3 linked regions of the Homo sapiens genome follow. The protein of the gene in region 3 purifies or fractionates together with the protein of the main gene of each other region. This does not show direct contact. Each region holds a gene or a part of one and is shown on either strand. Other genes may lie near its edges.

Region 1 (7,807 bases), on a different chromosome or scaffold from region 3:
GAGCTAGGTCTTAAAGGTATAATTTAGACACTCAGAAACAGAAGAACATTCTCAGAGAGTAAAAGTATAACTATATGTGCCTGAGTGGTGGCATCTTCCAAATCTTGATTGTGGTGGTAGCTACACGGGTGCATATATATCTACTAAAACTTATTGAAATGTACACTTAAATGAATGTACATCAGTATATATAAATTTTTCCTTAATAAATTTGATACTATATAATTGACCAATGCAATGAAAGGTCATTGAGATTTCAGGCTTGGATAGCTTGGAGAGGAGGAAGTAAATACAATAAAGGAAAAAGGGAAACCGCCAGTTAAAGACAAGGGTATCATATTTTCATACAATTCTCAATAAAAACTGTTAACTATTACACAAAAAATATTAGCTTTATATTTCTACTTAATAGTTTTATTCCAGGGAGATAATTTACCTGAATTAACGCTTATCTATTAAAATTACATGTTCTCTTCCCACCTCTCCTATCTGCAAGCAAAATTGTGCATTAACAGCATTCACCCTAAGAAAGTAATAAAGAATGAACAGAATATCCACACTGGTGGTGTACTAGTGACACTTAACAGACTTTAGCAAAACAGTTTAAGATTGTGTTCAGCACACATCCTGTTTGTAAAGCAATTTAGAAGTAACTGTCTCAAAATTTGTGTTTTAGCCTTTAGCTCTTTTCCATGATATAAGCTCTTAAAATAGGTAGTTATTACACAGTAAGCACATTTTGGGTGGCTTCTACCATAATTTCATTTTAGGAATGCATGACTATAAGGAGAAATCATCACAGCAAAAGTGATGCCATTATCAACAAGTCTTCACTTGTTGGAACCTCAAAATGCCATTTTGAATAAAATCAATAACTACACTCCACCATCAAATTCAAAACATGAATTATGGTTTTAAAAAAGTCAAAAAACCAGAAAGAATAAGATAAGTCTTCTGCCAATAATTAAAGCATTAAGACTCATGGGAACTTAAGTGTATCATTAATATTTTACTAAGAAAAATATAATTTTTTTTATACAAGTGAGTTGCCACTAGATCTTCATGCTCCAAAAAGTTTAAAATGACAGCCAAAAAATAAGCCTAATGCATGGACCTTTACAGTTGAAGAGGACTCAGCTTAAGTACAGCAGTTTTTAAATTTATATTCTATGTAATTATATTCTAAGAGTTGTTAACCATTTGGCCATGAGAAAATAGATCAGGTAAATTTGGGAATGCTAGGATAACCTTCTGGAGATTTACATGTATCAGCATAACAGTAAAGGTTTTGAAGAGTCCTGCCTTTATAAGCAAAAAAGTTAAACCTAGTTTAACCTAGTGTGCTCCCAAATTATTTGCCATTGAACACTGCTTTGGGGAAAGTAAGCCTATTAAATGGTTTTAGAACACTGTTCTGGGGGAAACATCAGTTTGGAAAACCCTGGTCTTTTCAAATTTCCTTAAACAATGACAAAACCGAAGCCTGGAGATCACACCTGGTTAGTAGCAGATTAAAGCACTTGAATCTAATCTCTTCATTCCCAGGCCAGAGCTCACTCCTTTACTTTAACTACAAAATAGGACTTCTTTGAATGTATACAAACATTTAACTGACAACACTTACCTTACATTTAAGATTTGGGTTATGGTGTCACATTTTCTGGTTTGTGTATTAAATCAGGTGTTTTTAGTTCCTTCAGCACTAGGTACCTAATAATCAAGCCCACGTGGAGATTTGCTACTGCTTAACAATTACAGAGAATGATTTAGTTATCAGTTGTGGCCGAAAGTAATCACTAAAATAAAGCATTTAGACTACTCGTGGTTTTAATTTACTCATAACTTCAGTCGGCCCACCTAAATCACTGTGTTATCTATCAGGTGGTGAGTTACTTAGCACATAATGCCGACGTATGTTATTCACTGTAGACCATATTAATACCCACAAACAAAATTAAAATGTGAGAACTTATGTCTGCATAGACAATGGCCAACAACATCAAAACAGATTTTTCTCTCTCTACAGTTCAGGGCCTATTTGTCAGGCAAACAGTTTCCTACATTTTTGGTAATTATCATTTTTTTTGACTGCTTTAGCTGGAGTCGAAGTCATTTTCCCAATCTTTACATTTCTCAAACGCCATAGAACTCTAAGATAGTGTAAAAATGTTCAAACACAATTTACTTAGCTTAAGAAAAATAGTTGTGTGCCATTCCCCGCCCCCCTCAGGGTACAGGAATGGAGGAGGCCCGAACAAGTGACTATTGTTATGTTGCAACTTTAAAAGGCTTAGGAATCAAAGGTGATAATTGTTAACAACACCCGTTTGACTCTTCTGACTTCCTCTTAATAAACTTCGGTACTCCTTTCTAAGCCCCACGGAGAACATGAACCATCGCGGGCCTACGTGTCTCCTCAATGCTAAAAGAACCCACCAGCCGAGAAGGCACAACGCCTCGATTCCTTCAACAAAGAGGGTACTCCGCACGCCTCCATCGCACAGGTGCGACCTCTGCCCCAGCCTTGCGCACCGCTCCGCCCCAGCAGGGGAGGCTCGGGACCTGTCCCCGGCTCCCCGGCCCCGCCTCCGGCCTCCCTCACCTGGGGCCGCCCTCGCGCCTCTGCCCGGCCCAGGCCCCGGCCCCAGCCCTGGCCCTCCAGTCCCCGCGCAGCTCCCGACTCCCCGTAAACCAGAGGGCGGCCGACCAGCTTCGCAGCTCCTGGCGGGGCCGGAGCGGCAACACCCCCGACGCCACAGCAGTCAGACTCGCAAGGCGTCCCCGCGGCTCAGGACCTAGCCGGGCCGAGAAGGATGCTCGGAGCCGGCTACCAGCCTAGCGGCCGCACTGGGGGCAGGGACGCTTTTACCTGCTGCTGGCTCGGCCGCTTCTCGCCGGCGCAGCTCTCCTGGCAACCACGGCAGCTACACCGAGACCGGGAGCCGAAGGGCCTAGTGACAGCTCCCAGAGTGCACCGTGCTCGCGCCCACGCCGGCGTCGACGTCTGAGGCCTTCGATCCCCGCCCCCGATCGGCTTCCTGCCTCCCGGCGCTAGCTGTTGCCACAGCGCCCTCAAGTGGACTGTCGCGGGAAGCGGCCATGGCTACCAATTTCAGGAGTGGCTAGAAAGGGGGTTAGCAGATGTTTTCATTTGAAGAGATAATAGGAACTGAAAACAGCTTTTAAATATTATTTGAATAGTTTCTCAATATTTCATATGAGTAACCTGCATCCCAGAGAGGTTAGGAGACTTGTGAAGTTAGGAGACAAGTAGTTGGTGTCAGATTTGGAACTATTTTGAGTCTAGAGCTCTATCAATCATATCTAGTTACTCCAAGGTAAATTGCACCGTTTTGCCAACACCATACCGTAAAAAAATGAAAGTTTTTACAAATACGTAACTAAATATATAAAAATCTTTTAAGCTAACAAAACAATTATAAAGAGTAAGTTGTGCTACGGAAGTTGTATATTTCAATATAATGTGTCAATATTTAAGCATTCAATAGCCTCGGGTACTAAAGGTGGAAGATATGAAGAGTTGAAATCATCATCCTTCAAATAGATGAATTATTTGAGACCAAATAATAGTAAACTTTATTTTTTTAAGTGAGTTGTTGCTTCCATCTATAACTTCAAATTATTGTGATAGATATAATAATTTGTGCATCAACATAATAAACTTTAATCACCCCAAATACTGATTTTAGAAAAATTGTCAAGCTATTATCTTAAAATATATGACAGGATTTATTTATTTAGAATTTATTTATGGTTTAGGCTGGGCATGGTGGCTCACACCTGTAATCTCAGCACTTTGGGAGGCCAAGGTGGGCGGATCTACCAAAAACAGAAAAATTAGCCGGGCATGGTGGCGCGTGCGCCTGTAATCCCAGCTACTCGGGAGGCTGAAGCAGGAGAATCGCTTGAACCCAGGAGGCAGAGGTTGCAGTGAGCCGAGATCGCGCCACTGCACTCCAGCCTTGGCGACAGAGCGAGACTCCGAAAAAAAATAAATAAATAAAAGCAGCTCCTTGTTTTTAAGAAGCCCTATTGTAATTCTACCCGGTCTTATATTTTAATAGTTCTTCATTATAAGTATTTACATTATACCAGGTTCTTTACTGTGTCAAACTTTTCAAAACTATCTTCTGGTAGTAAACTTCTCCAACTTCTCTTAGTTTTTACTTTTGTGAAAGTGAATAGTGGAGCTGTACATACGTAATCATTCTCATCTTCCTTTTTTACCCCCTAAAAAATGGTTAGTCCTGATAGACTTCAGCCACACTCTTCTGCATTAGGTAACAAAGAACTTCCTTATATTTTTGCACCTGTTTCAATTTTGGAGCTATCCTGTCTAAGTTGAGAAGCAATGGCAAGTCAATTCTTGAAAATTTTGTCGCTTTAGATAGAGGCTAACAAACGACCCTTGTTCATAAAGAGACCAAGATAAAGTGGGTTTGGGGCCGGGAATTCTGTTCTTGCATCTCCTGGGGACAAAGCCCACCTGTAACACTTGCCTCCATCATCTCCCTCCCTTCGAGCTAGCCAAAGGTGTGAACCCTGGGTCTGATTTTTATGGTCATTTCCAGGGATGCTAACGCGCCAAGTCACGCTCATAAGAAGCAGAGTGGGGCGATAGCTAGCCTCTCGCCGCCCACCTTTCTCAGCACTCTGGGCCAAAGCCTGGTTTTGAAAATGCGCGCCCCGCCCCGGCCTCCGGGGTCACGCGCCTTCTCGGTGGTGCACTCTCCGGCCGGCAGGTGGCGCTGTGAGCTGGTAGGCGGCGCCAGCCCTGCGATCTGGCACAGGCGCCTGCGCCGCAGCGGGGCTGCCGCTGGTTGGTCCGCACGTGGAACCTCTCCTGGTCCTGTTGACCCGGGCCCCTCGGAACCTCCAGCTTGGTCCGGTCTGGGACTGGAAGCCTGCCATGGCGGCTTCTGCGGCGGAGACGCGCGTGTTTCTGGAGGTGCGGGGACAGCTGCAGAGCGCGCTTCTGATCCTGGGGTAAGAACTGGGATTCTAGGCGCAGTGCCCAGCTCGCTTTACTGCTGCCCGGGGGTCGGGGGCTGGTGAGTCTCTCTCTGTACGAGGGATTTTGAGTTTCTTCTTTCCAGTTGCGTAGAGCCTCTCGATCACTCAAAGTGAAGCTTTCCCCTGTAGTCGGCTCCGCCACTCCCACCCCTACTGACAGTGTGGGTATCTTTGGGGAGCTTTTTAGAAATTCAGGGTCTCAGCTCCACACCAGACTTATGGAATCAAAACTTATATTTTAACAAGATTTCCAGGAATCAAATGCACATTAAAATTTGAGGAACAGTGATGTAAAACACTGTTGGCAGTGCCCGGCGTTTCCAACAAAACAATGCAAAAAATGATTTGTCTGTCTCTCTTCGGGATCCTCCTTACTGGATCAGTTCCTATGTGAGCTTCTTGTTTTGTAAATAACCTCGGGTCTTTTCGTCCAAAACTGCTCTTTGCAGAGAAACCACACAATCATTCAATAAACGTGAGTTTAGTGAACCACTAAGACAGGTTGTAGACTTCTTACTGGAGCTCGTTCATTTATTCATATTCTTCCTTCCAGTGAGAACGTCAAACTTGTTATTCGCTACACAAATAACTTTTAGGAAAAATGTTCTCTATTTTGTTTGACAGCAGTTTTAATGATTTGTGGTCCCCTTGTCTATTCCTTTGTGATCGCTGTTTCAAAGAGAGTAAGTTAGAAGTTAAAATCCTGAGAATGGTATTACACGGTGCCACAGGTAGATTGATGCTTAATTTTTTCCTCTTCCCTAAATCTGCCAGATATCTGGTGTGGCAATTTGGAATATGGCGTGAGAACTGAGTTCAAATGCTAGCTTCCTCACGAAATTAGAATAATTTAATCTGAATTTCTTCAATCTTGAAATGGGAATAATAGTACTCTGAATGTATTTCTTTTTCTCTTTCAAAATTTATGAATTTGGACAAATATCTCCAATTCTGGTGCACCTTGTAGAGTAATTAGGAACCCAAACCCTACCAAAATAAAACAAAAACCACACACACACAACAAACCCTCCCTTCCTCTCATGCAGGGGCCTTTCACAGTTCCCTTGGACTACTCTCCTTTGTTTAGGCAAGGTACCCGGGTGGCTCATGCCTGTAATCCCAGCACATTGGGAGGCTGAGGCGGGCGGATCACGAGGTCAAGAGATCAAGACCATCCTGGCCAACATGGTGAAACCCTGTCTCTACTAAAAATACAAAAATTAGCTGGGTGTGGTGGCGCGCACCTTTAGTCAGTCCCAGCTACTCAGGAGGCTGAGGCAGGAGAATGGAGTGAACCCGGGAGGCGGAGGTTGCAGTGAGCTGAGATCGCGCCACTGCAGTTCAGCCTGGCAACAGAAAGAGACTCCGTCTCAAAAAATAAAAAATAAAAAGAAAAAAAAAGAAACCTAACTTTGCTGGACTTAGTTTTGCCATTTCTTGAACTACTTATAAATGGATTCATACAATATATACTTTTTTGTTTCTGGCTGCATTCCTTCCATAATATTTTTCAGATTCACGTTCCATCTATGTGGCTGCATATATCAGTAGTCCATTCCTTTTTCTTGCTAAGTTTTCCATTGTATGAATATACCACAATTCATTTATCTGTTCTCCTATTGCTGGATGTTTTTCTTGTTTCTGGAGTTTGCTTATTATGAATACAGCTGTCATAACACTGTTGTATAAATCTTTTTTTGGACATACATTTTCATTTCTTTTTAGGTAAGTACCTAAGAGTGAAATTTCTGGGTCATAGGATAGATGTGCATGTTACTTTGTGAGAAATTGCCAAACAGTTCTCCAAAGTGATTGTACCAGTTTGCACGTTCAACCAGAAAAAAAATGAGTTTCAACTACTTTACATTTTGACTTACATTTAGTATTATCAGTCCTTTTAGTTTGAACCATTCTAGTGTGTGTAAAATAGTATCTTGTGGTTTTAATTTTCATTTTACCGATGACTAATAATGTTGAGTGCCTTTTCACTTGCTTTTTAGCAATTCATATATGTTCTTTTTAAAAGTATCTTCTAATTTTTTTTGCCCATAATCAGATTATTTGTCTTGTTTAATTGAGAGTTCTTTATACTGTCTCAAAACAAGAGCTTTCTCACATAAATGCCTTGTGAATATATGACTATTCTTATCTGTGACTTAACTTTTCATTTTCTTTTCTTTTTTTTTTTTTTTTTTTTTTTTTAGACAGCGTCTTGCTCTACTGCCCAGGCTACAGTGCAGTGGTGTGATCATGGCTCACTGCAGCCTCAACCTCCTGGGCTCAAGCAATCCTCCCACCTCAGCCTCTGGAGTAGCTGGGATACAAGTTGCATGCCACCATGCCCAGCTAATTTTTGTATTTTTTTGTAGAGATAGGGTTTCACCATATTGCCCATGCTGGTCTTGAACTCCTGGACTCAAGCGATCCACCCACTTTGGACTCCCAAAGTGCTGGGATTACAGGTATGAGCCACCATGCCCTGCCTCGTTTTTTTGATAGTGTCCTTTGATGAACAGAAATTTTAATTTTAATGAAGTCCACTCTATCGTTTTTTTATTCCTTAAGGGTTAGTTTTTTTGGTGTCTTAAATCTTTGCCTACCTTAAGGCTGTGAAGATGTTTTGGCAGGTTTATTTTCTAGGAGTTATATCGTTTTAGCTTTCACATTTTGATCTGTGATCATGTTGAATTCATTTTTGTGTTTGCAGTGAAGTAGGGATCAAAGTTCTTTTTTTGGTATAAGGATATTCATTTATTCTATCACCATCAGTTGA
Region 2 (5,620 bases), on a different chromosome or scaffold from region 3:
CTCCATGAAACCCATCCAGTGAATTCTTAGAGGTCCAAGACCCCTGATTAATAACTGTTGGCTGGGCGCGGTGGCTCACGCCTGTAATCCTGGCACTTTGGGAGGCCAAGGTGGGTGGATCACTTGAGGTCAGGAGTTCAAGACCAGCCTGGCCAACATGGTGAAACCCCCATCTCTACTAAAAATACAAAAATTAGCTGGGTGCGGTGGCGTGCACCTGTAGTCCTAGGAGGCCGAGGCAGGAGAATCGCTTGAACCTGGGAGGCAGAGGTTACAGTGAGCCGAGGTCGTGCCACGGCACTCCAGCCTGGGCAACAGAGTGAGACTCCGTTTCCAAAAAAAAAAAAAAAGAACTGTTGACCTATACTTCTACCAGATTCCCATTCCTCCTGCTGTCAAAGAGTCTGCAGCACCCCGCTTCCCACTTTCCTTCTCACACTTGGGGCTACACCAGTAGAGAGGTTGTATGTGCTTGAGAAGGTGGGAGTCTGCTCTGCCTGTGGCCTACTAAAGAGTCTATACTTCTTTAATTATTGCCCTTGTTTTTAGTATTTCAGGGTTGGTCCACAGGACTCAGGGAAGGAGAAAAAAGTATAAAAATTTCTTTTCTTATTACAAGAATTCCAAGATGTGTCAGAGTTGACCAGAAGCATAGAGAAAACTACATAGTCGAGTACCCACCAGGGGAATGTGGTAGAATTGGCAGTCTGTTGGTCTCTTTGTAATGTCAGATTAAAGAAATCACCTGGAGGCTGACATTGGCCCCTTCCCTTCCCAGGAGGCAGATCTGGCCTAAATACGGAGATGCGTACAAAGAAGACCTAGGATCACAATCGTTCTTAGCCATCAAACTCTTCTTCCAGGTCCTAGAGAAAGTGGCCACTCTATACCAAAGCCAAAGAACTGCAGAGTACTCCTCTTGGTTGGGGTTTCATATTGCTCTTGCAATTCAGTTTCCTCTCATCTTTGCTGTCATTTCGTGGGTACCAACAGCCTTGGCCAGGTGTGAGAAGTGTCCATTACTATTGTTTGCTCTGACTATCTTGCGCAAAGATGCCAAGTAAGGCTGGAGCAAAGGCCTTGGTGATACTCTTGCCTTGGACAGATAAATGGTGGTAGTGTAGCTAGTCCCTCAGTTGCACCTGTTTGTATTCCAAAGGCAGTAAACACAGATGTTCAGAAGCCCTTTATAATCAAGATGTCAAATATCTGAAATTATTCCCCAGCTCTGACAAAACTTGCCTTCTGGGTGTGGAGACAAAACAAGAATTTGTGACTACTGCTGATCACATCTAGAACTGCCTTGAGGCTGGCCATGAAGACTTGAAACCACAATTTTCACTGAGGATCTAAACCTCAGATCACATTTGTTTGGGGCTACTGTGGGGTAAGGGGATATTAAGGATGTAAAAGGGATGTTGCAAATGCTCATGAGACCAGGTTTTGTGGCACGCTAGGGCCACCACTAATTCTCCATGATGACTTCTCCACAGGACTTGCTTAAGCACAGGCACAGGACCCACCAATAATCAGATGTGCACTCTACACAGACTGCACCCACCGAGAACAGGTCACAGTCCTGTGACACAAACCCATATACACAACCGAGAGGTTGGCATTTTGGTCCATGCTTATTTAACAAATTCCCTTCTGCTGTGGGCACTAGGACAGGGGGCTGGCAATACTCAGATGAGCTGTCCCACCCCCAAGTCCAAAGCAGCAGCTCTCAGGCCTCCTCTGCTGCCTCATGCCATTCCAAACATGATGGCTGGGCTTACACACCTATCTTACTGGAAGCCTCCCTCTCTGTGTTCCCTTTCCACCACTATTCCATTACTTCCACAGGAGCTGGAGGCTGCCCCATCCACTCCAAGCCAGAGAACAAGCAGAGGCTGCCACAGGAGATCCTGGGCAAGTAATCAGCCACAGCATCTAGATTAGCATGAAGGAAACACTGGCCAAATTAAAAGATGAAACTTCCAAAAGGTAAATCTCTGTGTATTCATGCCTAATCTTCCAAGGTTGTGTAAATAATTTTTTTCTACCATCCCCCATCATTTGCATACATTTTTGTCAAGTCCAAACATAATTTGAAGTGAGGTAGGTAGTTTCTCTCTACTTGTGCCGTTGTCCTTGGGGTGATGTCGGGGCCTGTGCCCTGAACGCACTTGTCTCCTGTGCAGGGGCAGTGCCAGGGCTGGCATCAGTGGCTGGTGGAGCTTCTCAGTTGGCTATTTTCTCAATCTCGTCCAAATCATCTGTGTCCAATCTTTCTATCTTCTTATCTGGGGGAAAGATACACAGGTCTCTACCCTGCCCAGGAATGTGCCCCATCTTGGGCCACAGCAATCATTCATTCAGCCCCAAAGGCTCCGGGTGCCTAAGCAGGGGGCAGCAGGGCCCCTAGTCACTGACAGCAACAGTCAGAGCCCCACGCCCCGAAGCCCAGTCACAGGGGAGCTGTTCTTGGAGTCCCTGGGTCCTGAAGTCTCCAGGTGTGCTCCCTGAGAACTGCCATATGGTCAGAAAGGAGGGGAGTGTGCTAGGGACAGAGCCTCTCTTGGGGCTACAGAAGATCCTACCCCTTTCACCACCCCGCCCTACTTAGCAAAGGGCGCCAGGCACAGGACCCTCCCCGGGACTCACTAAAATGCTCCTGGATTCTGTTCAGGATGTTCATGCTGTGCTTGCTGTCCACCATGTTCACTGCCAGGCCCCTCTTGCCAAAGCGGCCCGTGCGCCCGATCCGGTGCAGGTAGGTCTCATTGTCAGGATTCCCGTCCTTGTCCACGGGAAGATCAAAGTTGATGACGACAGACACTTGTTCAACATCAATGCCTGCAGGAAGGAGAGTTGGAGGCTGAGAGGACTAAGGACAGGAGGCAAATCAGTCATGTGGTCCATCCATACAATGGAGCATGACTCAGCATTAAGGGAACACGGCACTAAGAGACGTGCATGACATTGAGTGCAGGAAGCCAGATCTGAAAGGCCGTGCAGTATGAGATTCAGATGATGCCCCAAAGCAAAGCTACAGGCATAGATACCAAACTAGCACGGGTCAGGGGGTGGGGTGCAGGGAGAGGTGATGAATGAGTCCCTGAGAGTTGGAGACAGAGAGAAGTAAGGACAGGAGACAAAAATCACTGTTGTCCACAGGTAAGTCAATGCATACCAACTTCGGGTAAAGGGAAAGAATTTGGGGGGCCGAGTGCGGTGGCTCATACCGGTAATCCCAGCACTTTGGGAGGCCGAGGCAGGCAGATCATCTGAGGTCAAGAGTTCAAGACTAGCCTGGCCAACACTGCAAAACCCTATCTGTACTGAAAATACAAAAATTAGCTGGGCTTGGTGGCAGGCGCCTGTAATCCCAGCTACTCGGGAGGCTGAGGCGGGAGAATCACTTAAACCTGAGAGGCGGAGGTTACAGTGAGCTGAGATTGTGCCACTGCACTCCAGCCTGGGCCATTGAGCAAGACTCTGTCTCAAAAAAATAAATAAATACATTTGGGACAGGCCAACTCTGGGAATTGGGTACAAGAGAGGGCACATACAGGCATACAGCAGAACCTGGAGGAAAAGAACAAAACTTTGGCAGGTGCCAACAAAATTATGAAATCAGTCAGTAAGCCTCTGGGAGACACAATGTTCTGGAGATGGGCATCCCTGGAAGAGCAGGCTCTGTTCTCTACCAGTCAGATGCCTGTACATTTCCTTCCACCAAGTCAGGACTCCTGGCTTCTGTGGGAGTTCTTATCACCTGAGGGAAATCCAAACAGTCTCTCCTAGAAAGGAATAGTGTCACCAACCCCACCCATCTCCCTGAGACCATCCGACTTCCCTGTGTACAAGGATTTCTGGCTCTAACTGGGCCTGGGACCCCAAGCCTGGCAGACCAGGTGGGACACGTCCTCTGCTCACCGCGGGCACACACGTTGGTGGTCACCAAAACCTTCTCTTTGCCCTCTCGGAAGCGCTCAATCACTGCAGCCCTCTGTTCCACCATCATCTCCCCACTCAGCAGAGCCACCTGGTGGCCTTCTTTTGAGAGCTCTGCTGCCAGCCAACTAGCTGTTTTGCGAGTCTGTAGTGAAAAGAATTGTTTTTTATGAAGAGACCTGTTAAAAACAAAAGGAAGACAACTGCTAAAAAGTGGCTTGCCACGATTAAAATACATGAAGGCCCTGCTAAATCCAGTTAGGAGGTTAGGCTTAAAATTTCTCAATGAAGCATGGTAGTACACACCTGTAGTCCAAGCTACACACTTGAGCCCAAGTGTTCGAGGCTGGCCTGCACAACATGGCAAGAACCCATCTCAAAAAAAAATTTTTCTTTCAAATAGAATTTTAGTCATATGATTTTTTTCTTTTTAGATAAGTTATGTAACTGCTGTTACTTTTGTATCTAGGAAGAGTGTGGCTTTAGCCAAAGATCTTCATTCCTAAATAGTCTATGTTCTTGCCAGATATGGTGGCTCGTGCCTGTAGTCTTAGGCTTTGGGAGGCTGAGGCTGGAAGATTGCTTGAGGCCAGGAGTTTGAGACCAGCCTGGACAACATAGCAAGACCCCACCTCTACAAAAATAAAAATAAAAATTAGGCTGACATGCATGGGGCACATACCTGTAGCCCTAGTAACAAGAGCCAAGGCTGCAGTGAGCTATGACCATGCCACTGTATTCTGGCCTGAATGATAGAGCAAGACCTTATCTCAAAAACAAACAAACAACATATATATTTTAAAATTTTATTTTAAATTTAAATTTTTTGAGACAGGATCTCATTCTCTTGCCCACTCTGGAGTGCACAGTCACAGCTCACTGCAGTCTCAACCTCCTGGGCTCAATCAATCCTCCCATCTGAGCCTCCCAAGCAGCTGGGACCACAGGCATGCACCACCACGCCTGGCTAATTTTTAAAATTTTTGTAGAGATGGGGTCTTGCTATGTTGTGCAAGCTGGTCTTGAACTCCTGGGCTCAAGAAGATCCCCCCACCTCAGCCTCTCAAAAGGCTGGGATTACAGGCGTGAGCCACTGTGCCCAGCCATATATATATTTTTAATGATGAGGTCTCACTATGTTGCCCATGCTGGTCTGAACTCCTGGGCTCAAGCGATCCTCCAACCTCAGCCTCTTGAGTAGCTGGGACTACAGGTACTTGCCCAGCTTATACTCTTTTTTTGTTGTTGGTTTTTTGTTTGTTTGTTTGTTTTTGTATTGAGACAGAGTTTCGCTCTTGTTACCCAGGCTGGAGTGCAATGGAGCAATCACAGCTCACTGCAACCTCCACCTCCCGGGTTCAAGCGATTCTCCTGCTTCAGCCTCCTGAGTAGCTGGGATTACAGGTGCACACCACCACGCACGGCTAATTTTTTGTATTTTTAGTAGAGATGGGGTTTCACCATGTTGGCCAGGCTGGTCTTGGTCTCCTGACCTCAGGTGATCCACCCGCCTTGGCCTCCCAAAGTGCAGGGATTACAGGCATGAGCCACCGTGCCAGCCGCCCAGCTTATATTCTTAAAAATCTAAAAATTATTTCATTGGCTGTTACTTGGGGTTTTCTCCAAGTAATCACTAAGAAGTGGAATCAAAGTCTCCCTCTTACGACTCACTAAAACCTTA
Region 3 (7,108 bases):
CTTATGTAACACAGGGGACACACAACTGCTCCGGTGCATCCACAAAAACAAGGAAGATGGCCCCCAGGACACAGGGATTCACTCTCTTCCTTTAAATCAAAAGTTCTCTCAAAGACCAGAAGTCCTGTTTTTCATCTAATTTTGGAAAGTTTCTCCTATGGCGCTCATTCTCTCTCCATTAAAAAAAATCTGTCATCCATTTCCTTTAGCAATGTGTTCTAATAATTAAAGCTGAGAAACTGTCATGCAGCAGAAGAAATAAAGGGAGGAGCCTATCTCCCCTCCCTACCAGCTTGAAACACCTGCAAGAAGCGAGTCAGAAACCAGTCTCCTCACTCCTTGTCCCTAAGGATGTCCCAGGCCTAAGGCCTCCCGCAGGGTCCAAAGGTAGAAAAACAGGAGGGTCACCATGGTGTCGGATAGTATGGCTGGAAGGAGCCACCAACCCAGCCTTCTAAGCCAGATAGGGTGAGTAATGTACATGTGTGTAGGTGTGGTGTGTGCCTGCGTTGGGGAGGGTGTACGCAAGTCTAAGCTACTGCTACACAGAGAACAAAACAGAGCAACAGCCACCTTCATAAACCCCGCCAGTGTTCCCTGTGTAGTTTATGACCACAGCAACCCCAAGCATCTAGACTCACAGGCTTTCAGTGGACTGCTCTCAAGAGCGCACTCAAGCTGGCAGCTTCATGGCTCAAGGGGTCAATAATGAACACACTCGCCAGATTCTCAATGAACTACTGACCTTAAGTGGAACAACAAATTCCCCTCTCTGCTACCTAAAACACAGTGTGTGGTCTAGGCAGACCCACTGTGACCCCTTCACACCCTGCCACTGGCCCTCTGGAAATGAAAGGCTTTGGGATCAACCCAGTCACCAGCAGAGATCCAAGGAGCCCAGGATACTGTCCCCACTGCAACACCAGCCTCGAAACTCAGGACTGGGAGGGGCAAAATACAGGTAGGGCGAACCATGGTCTCTCCCCTCATCCTCAGTGGCCTGAATGCCTGGGCTGGAAGCTGCTGGAAATTAACGGGCAGCTTGGGCTTGGGTCCAGTGAGGCAGCACTGTACTCACCACAGCCAAAAATAACATTCTGCCCAATTCTGCCCAATTCTGCCCAATTCTATCCCATTGTGAAAGCAGCAGACGGCAAGGACACACAGAGAGTAACCTCTATGACCAAGAGCTCCTGGGAGGTCTGGGTCTCATCTTTTCTGTCCCAGGTTTGAGGACACTGTGCAGAGCTCAAAATATCAGTCAAGCTGAGGTGAGGTCCCTATCCACTGCACTCTCTCTAGGCTCCACCACACCTGGGCAGAGGGGCAACTCCACTGTACCCAGAGGGAGTCAATAGGAGCCCCACCGGGCAGAGGAACAGGATACCAGTCCTAAATACTGTATCCCAGTATTATTGAGTCCCCAAAGGCTCTTAGTGTGACAGTCACCCCCAGTGTCTGGTAACTGATCTCAAGCCCTCTTCTGGCTGATCTCAGAGACAGGAAAGACAATTATTGGTCGTGACAAACAGCAGCACCCAACACGAAGCTGCAAAAACTGTCTCCAGAACTTCATAAAATTCACACATGTACTCCTTAGGACAAGGACCCTCCTGACCCCTGACCTCCTGTACCTGTCTTCAGGACCACCAGGTGTGCAGCGTCATCCCGAACATAGGAGACGGCGGCGATGTCATGGATGGGCACCCTGAGGATGATATCCTCCCCGTCCCTCCAGGCCAGCTTGACGTTGTACGCAGACAGGCTGAGCACAGCATCGTGCTCCTGAGTCAAGTGTCCCGGAAGCTGGTGGGCTCTCTGGAAGGAACCACAGGGCATCAGAAATACAGACTCAGCTGTCAACCGGCATGGGGCGCTTCTCCTGAGAATATTGTGCTGGCCGATGTCACACATGTGACAAATGCTGAGTGAATAAGGTCAGTGTTATTCCCCTCAGAACAGTGCTTATTCCAGGGACACCAATGTGTTCAAACCATTTGGGAGATTCTTCTGGAACTGCCTTCAGATTCAGACTTACGGCACATGGTTTGAAATATCTTGAAAGTGTAAATTTTGGAAACAGCCCAAAATCACATGGAGCAAGTGTCGAGAATCAACTTAATGTCCATACTAAGGAATAGTCTTTATGGCCAAGAGCCAAGTGTACCCATAATGTGATGGGACTGGCTCATTCCTCACAGCCACGAGGCCAAGAGTACAGGGACCAAGGGCTGGTGGGGGCTGAGGGCTAGTGCACAGGGTTAAGAGGATAGGGTTACCTTTGCATTGTCTATGAAATGCAGGATTTCAGTCCTACTGGAGGGATTCAGGTATCCTGGTATGGACGTTAACTGACCTAAATACTGAAAGAAAGTGAAGAAAAAAATGCCATGAGAAATGGGAGCTGAGCCAACACCACCATCACTACCACCGAGAGCACAAACCAAGTGCTTCATACTCAGGCCACCAGGCCCATGGGTCTCCATTCCGGCTCGCGTGGAGGCCCAACTCTAGGAAGAGAGTCCTGGGTTCTTACAGAAATCTCTACTGGCTGAGGACAGTGCTGCCCCATCTCCTACTATTCTACAGTGAAGGTCATCATCAAAAGTCCTGCAATGAGTATCCCAAACTACTAGTACCAAAACTACTAGTTTTGGTAGAATCTGTATTCTAAAACAGGGATGGTCAGGGTTTTCTCGTCACTGCTGGGGAAACTGAAAACAATGGCATCATGCACAACTTCACTAAAAAATAAACTTCCTCAATTGCAAAGGTCAACATAGCTGAGAAATGAGCATAAATAGAGAAATGAAGTGCTATGGTTTCAATGTGTCCCCCAAAAAGCATGTGCTGGAAACTTAGTCCCCACATGCAACAGTGTTAAGGGTGGGGCCTTTAAGAGGTGATTAGGCCAGGTGCGGTGGCTCACGCCTGTAATCCCAGCACTTTGGGAGGCTAAGGTGGGCAGATCACCTGAGGTTGGGAGTTCGAAACCAGCCTGACCAACATGGAGAAACCCCGTCTCTACTAAAAATACAAAATTAGCTGGACGTGGTGGTGCATGCCTGTAATCTCAGCTACTCAGGAGGCTGAGGCAGGATAATTGCTTGAACCCGGGAGGCGGAGGTTGTGGTGAGCCAAGACTGCGCCATTATACTCCAGCCTGGGCAACAAGAGCAAAACTCCATCTCAAAAAAAAAAAAGAAAGAAAAGAGCTGATTAGGCCACGAGAGCTCTGCCCTTGTGAGCACATTAATGCTGTTATCCTGGGAGAGGGTTTGTTATCTCAGGAGCAGGTTCCTGATGAAAGGATGAATTTGACCCCCTTCCCTCTCCTGCCCTTCCACCTTTCGCCCTGGGATAACATAAGATGCAGATGCAGCCCCTCACCAGCTGTGCCCTTCAACCTTAAACCTCCTAGCCTCCAGAACGATACGATTTTTTTTTTTTTTTTGAGACAGGGTCTCACTCTATCACACAGGCTGGGGTGCAGAGGCGTGATCTTGGCTCACTGCAACCTCTGCCTCCCAGGCTCAAAGCAATTGTCCCACCTTAGCCTCCTGAGTAGCTGGTACTACAGGTGTGTGTCACCACGCCTGGCTAATTTTTGTAGAGACAGGGTTTTGCCATGTAGCCCAGGCTGGTCTCGAACTCTTGGACTTAAGCAATCTGCTCACCGCAGCTTCCCAAAGTGCTGGGATTACAGGTGTGAGGCACCATGCACAGCCTAGAAATATCTATTCATTATAAATTTCCCAGTCTGTGGTATCTGTTATAGCAGCACAAAACATTTAGTAAAAAGGTTTTTTTGGTCACACATGGCCATGAGGCACTTGGCTTAGCAAACCTCCATAATGCAGGGCCTCAGGTGTAGAAGGCTGTGGGCAGCAGCACTGTACCTGCTGTGCTCCTGCCTGCATCTTACCAACCACCATAACATTTTCAATGTTTCTGTTTTTTAAAATGGGTTGCTGATTCTTCCCAAGAACAGGCTTCTTGCACTCAACATTTCTCAGTTGTTCATTACCTCACACAGTTAAGTTCTCTATTAAAAAAGAATGAAATGGGACTTTCCAATTTCCTGTCCAGCTTGTAAAGGCTCAGAAGTCATCACTCCCATCCTCACAACAAGAAAGCTGGCAAACTTAAAATCAATGACTGTTCTCAGATCCATCAGATAATTGAGGTCACATGAAAAAACAATAACCCCAAAGATGGAGAGACAGATATGCAATGCTAAGAATCACAGCTCATTGCGGGGCAGAAACCCTAGAGCCAGCACCAGCAGAGAGGAAAGGGGAACTGACAAATGGCAGAGACTGAGCATGGACCAGTAGGAGACAAAAACTCCAGGGGAATAGTCACTGGGGAGGTCCCCATACCAGTCTGAGTTTTACCTCCATGAGCCCCACCAGGCTCTCAGGGTGAGACTGGAGAAACATCTCCTCATACTCTGGTAGGAGGAGGGAAGAATACATCATTTAAAAGTATAACCAGGCCAGGTGTGGTGGCTCATGCCCATAATCCCAGGACTTTGGATGGCCAAGGCGGCAGGTTTGCTTGAGGCCAGGAGTTTGAGACCAGCCTGGGAAACATGGTGAGACCCTATCTCTACAACAAGAACAACAACAGCAACAACAACAACAAAATAGTTGGGCACGGCAGTGTGCCTGTGGTGCCAGCTACTCAGGAGGCTGAGATGGGAGGATCATTTGAGCCCAGGAGGTTGAGGCTGCAGTGAGTCATGATGGTGCCACTGCACTCCAGTTTCCCAACCAACATATAAAGGGCTCAGAGGTCATCTCAAAAAAAAAAAAAAAAAAAGAAAGAAAGAAAGAAAAAGGCATGACCAGAGCATTCTGTTATCCTTAACAAAGGGCTTTCCTCAAGGAAAACTATTTTACCAGAGCCTAACCACCTAGGGGTAAGGAAACACCCAATTCCTGCCTCCTCTATCGTTTATGTCTCTCCTAAGGGGGAGGAAAAAAACAAAACTGAGAAGCACATGTGAAGGCCACGGCCCAGGGACACAGGTTCACTAAAACACTGAGACCTAATCCCAGGACTACAGAACACTTCCTCTCCCCTGAAAGCCACATCAACAGGACCCCTGTGTAATAACAGGGATGCACACCTATAAGAACTGCAGGCCTCAGACTCTATTTAAGAAGGAATCTTGAAGAAAACCCAAAAACAATGGAAGACAAAAACAAGGATACACAGGAGATTTTTATCCCCCAGCATCACAAGGGCAGCAAACAGTAAACACAGCCCAACTCCCAGCCAGCCAAACGTACCTCACACTAAGGCCTATTAACCTGACGCCTAAGTTCCTCATATCAGAACCAGACTCAGACATAGTGGAGATTTTGGAACTACCAGATTGGGAATTTAAAACAACTACGATTAATATGGTAATGGCTCTAACGGAAAAAGTAGACATCATGTAAGAACAGATAGGCAGCATAAGCAGAGATGGAAACCCTAAGCAACAATCAGTAGGAAATGCCAGAAAGCAAAAGTCCTGTAACAGCAATGGGGACTGCCTTCAACAAGCTCAAGAGGCTGGACACAGCCAAGGAGAGACTCTCTGAGCTTAAGAATACGTCAACAGAAACTTCCAAACATGAAAAGCAAAGGGAAAAAAGAACGAAAGAAAGAAAACAGAATATGCAAGAACTGTGGGACAGTTACAAAAAGTGTAACATATGTGCAATGAGGATATCAAGAGAAAGAAAAGAACACAATAACTATTTGGAGTAATGAGAGCTGAGAAGTTCCCCAAACTAATGTCAGACACCCATCCACAGATCCAATAAGGTCAGAGAACATGAAACGGTAAAAAGCAGGTAATTTACACTGAGGCAAATCACATCAAACTGCAGAAATCAAAGACAAAAAGAAAATTAGAAAGGAAGATTCTCTCTTTGCAGAAATCTGGGAATTTTTTCCACAGGAAAAAAACATCCTACCTATAAAATGGCAAGAACAAGAATGACACTGGATTTCTCTTCAGGAACCATCCAAGCAAGAAGAGAGAGGAGGGAACTATTTGATTCTGTATCCAGTGAAATTATCCTTCAAAAGTGAAAGAGAAATAAAGATTTTTATCAGAAAAACAAAAACTCAGGGATTTAACATTTCAAGAAAAGTTAAAAGAACTTCTTCAGAGAGAATGAAAATGATTTGGTCAGAAACTCTGATCTATGTAAAGAAGGGGAAAAGCATCAGAGAAGAAATAAATGTAGGTAAAATTAATCTTTTATTTTTCTTATTTTAATTGCTCTAACACATTAACAATTTGTTCAAAATAAAATTTGTGTATTGGGTGACTGTAGCCTAAGGATAAATGAAATAAATGACAGCAATGTTATAAGCAGTGGGAGGAGTGAACTGGGAATACTTGGTTACAAGGTATTTGCACTACCTGTGAAGCAGCACAGCATTATTTGAAAGTGGATTTTGATTAGTTGTGAATGTATATTGCAAACCCTAAGGCAACCACTAAAATAAATATATATATATACACACATACACATTTTTGAGACAGGGTCTTGCTCTGTTGCCCAGGCTGGAGTGCAGTGGCACAATCACAGCTCACTGCAGCCTCAACCTCCCAGGCTGAAGCGATCCTCCCACTAGTAGATGAGACTACACGCACATGCCACCAGGCCCAGCTAATTTTTGTATTTTTTGTAGAGACAGACGGGGTTTTGCCATGTTGCCCAGGCTGGTCTCGAACTCCTGAGCTCAATCAATCCGCCCGCCTCGGCCTTCAAAAGTGCTGGGAATACAGGCATGAGCCACCGCACCCAGCCTGTATTTTTTGTTTTTTCTTTCTTTCTTTCTTTTTTTTTTTTTTAACAGACAGGGTTTCGCCACATTGCCTAGGCTAGTCTCAAACTCCTAGGCTCAAGTGATCCTCCTGCCTTGGCCTCCCAAAGTGCTGGGATTACAGGCATGAGCCACCATGCCTGGCCAAAACTTTTAAACAAAAAATCAGCAAATTGAATCCAATAATGTATTAATAATTATACACCACGACCAGGCAGGATTTATCCCAGGTGTGCAAGGCTAATTCAATGTTCAAATATCAATCGTAGCGGGG

Evidence for each region. Proteins that work in one complex are often made in the same cells at the same time.
Region 1: the proteins of CCM2 (region 3) and UBE3D purify together in Homo sapiens (affinity purification with mass spectrometry; 2 studies listed by BioGRID and IntAct, with this or other methods). This does not show direct contact.
Region 2: the proteins of CCM2 (region 3) and DDX19B purify together in Homo sapiens (affinity purification with mass spectrometry; 2 studies listed by BioGRID and IntAct, with this or other methods). This does not show direct contact.

What each region holds. Positions count from the first base shown.
Region 1 is NC_000006.12:83,062,842-83,070,648, reverse strand, and holds the start of UBE3D (E3 ubiquitin-protein ligase E3D), read left to right. Parts: upstream 1-4,807; 5' UTR 4,808-4,930; coding exon 4,931-5,007; intron 5,008-7,403; exon of another isoform or gene 7,404-7,496; intron 7,497-7,807. UniProt on the Homo sapiens protein: E3 ubiquitin-protein ligase which accepts ubiquitin from specific E2 ubiquitin-conjugating enzymes, and transfers it to substrates, generally promoting their degradation by the proteasome.
Region 2 is NC_000016.10:70,330,186-70,335,805, reverse strand, and holds the end of DDX19B (ATP-dependent RNA helicase DDX19B), read right to left. Parts: intron 4,085-5,620; coding exon 3,922-4,084; intron 2,839-3,921; coding exon 2,647-2,838; intron 2,286-2,646; coding exon 2,224-2,285; 3' UTR 501-2,223; downstream 1-500. UniProt on the Homo sapiens protein: ATP-dependent RNA helicase involved in mRNA export from the nucleus.
Region 3 is NC_000007.14:45,059,173-45,066,280, reverse strand, and holds part of CCM2 (cerebral cavernous malformations 2 protein), read right to left. Parts: intron 2,364-7,108; coding exon 2,280-2,363; intron 1,819-2,279; coding exon 1,635-1,818; intron 1-1,634. UniProt on the Homo sapiens protein: Component of the CCM signaling pathway which is a crucial regulator of heart and vessel formation and integrity. May act through the stabilization of endothelial cell junctions. May function as a scaffold protein for MAP2K3-MAP3K3 signaling.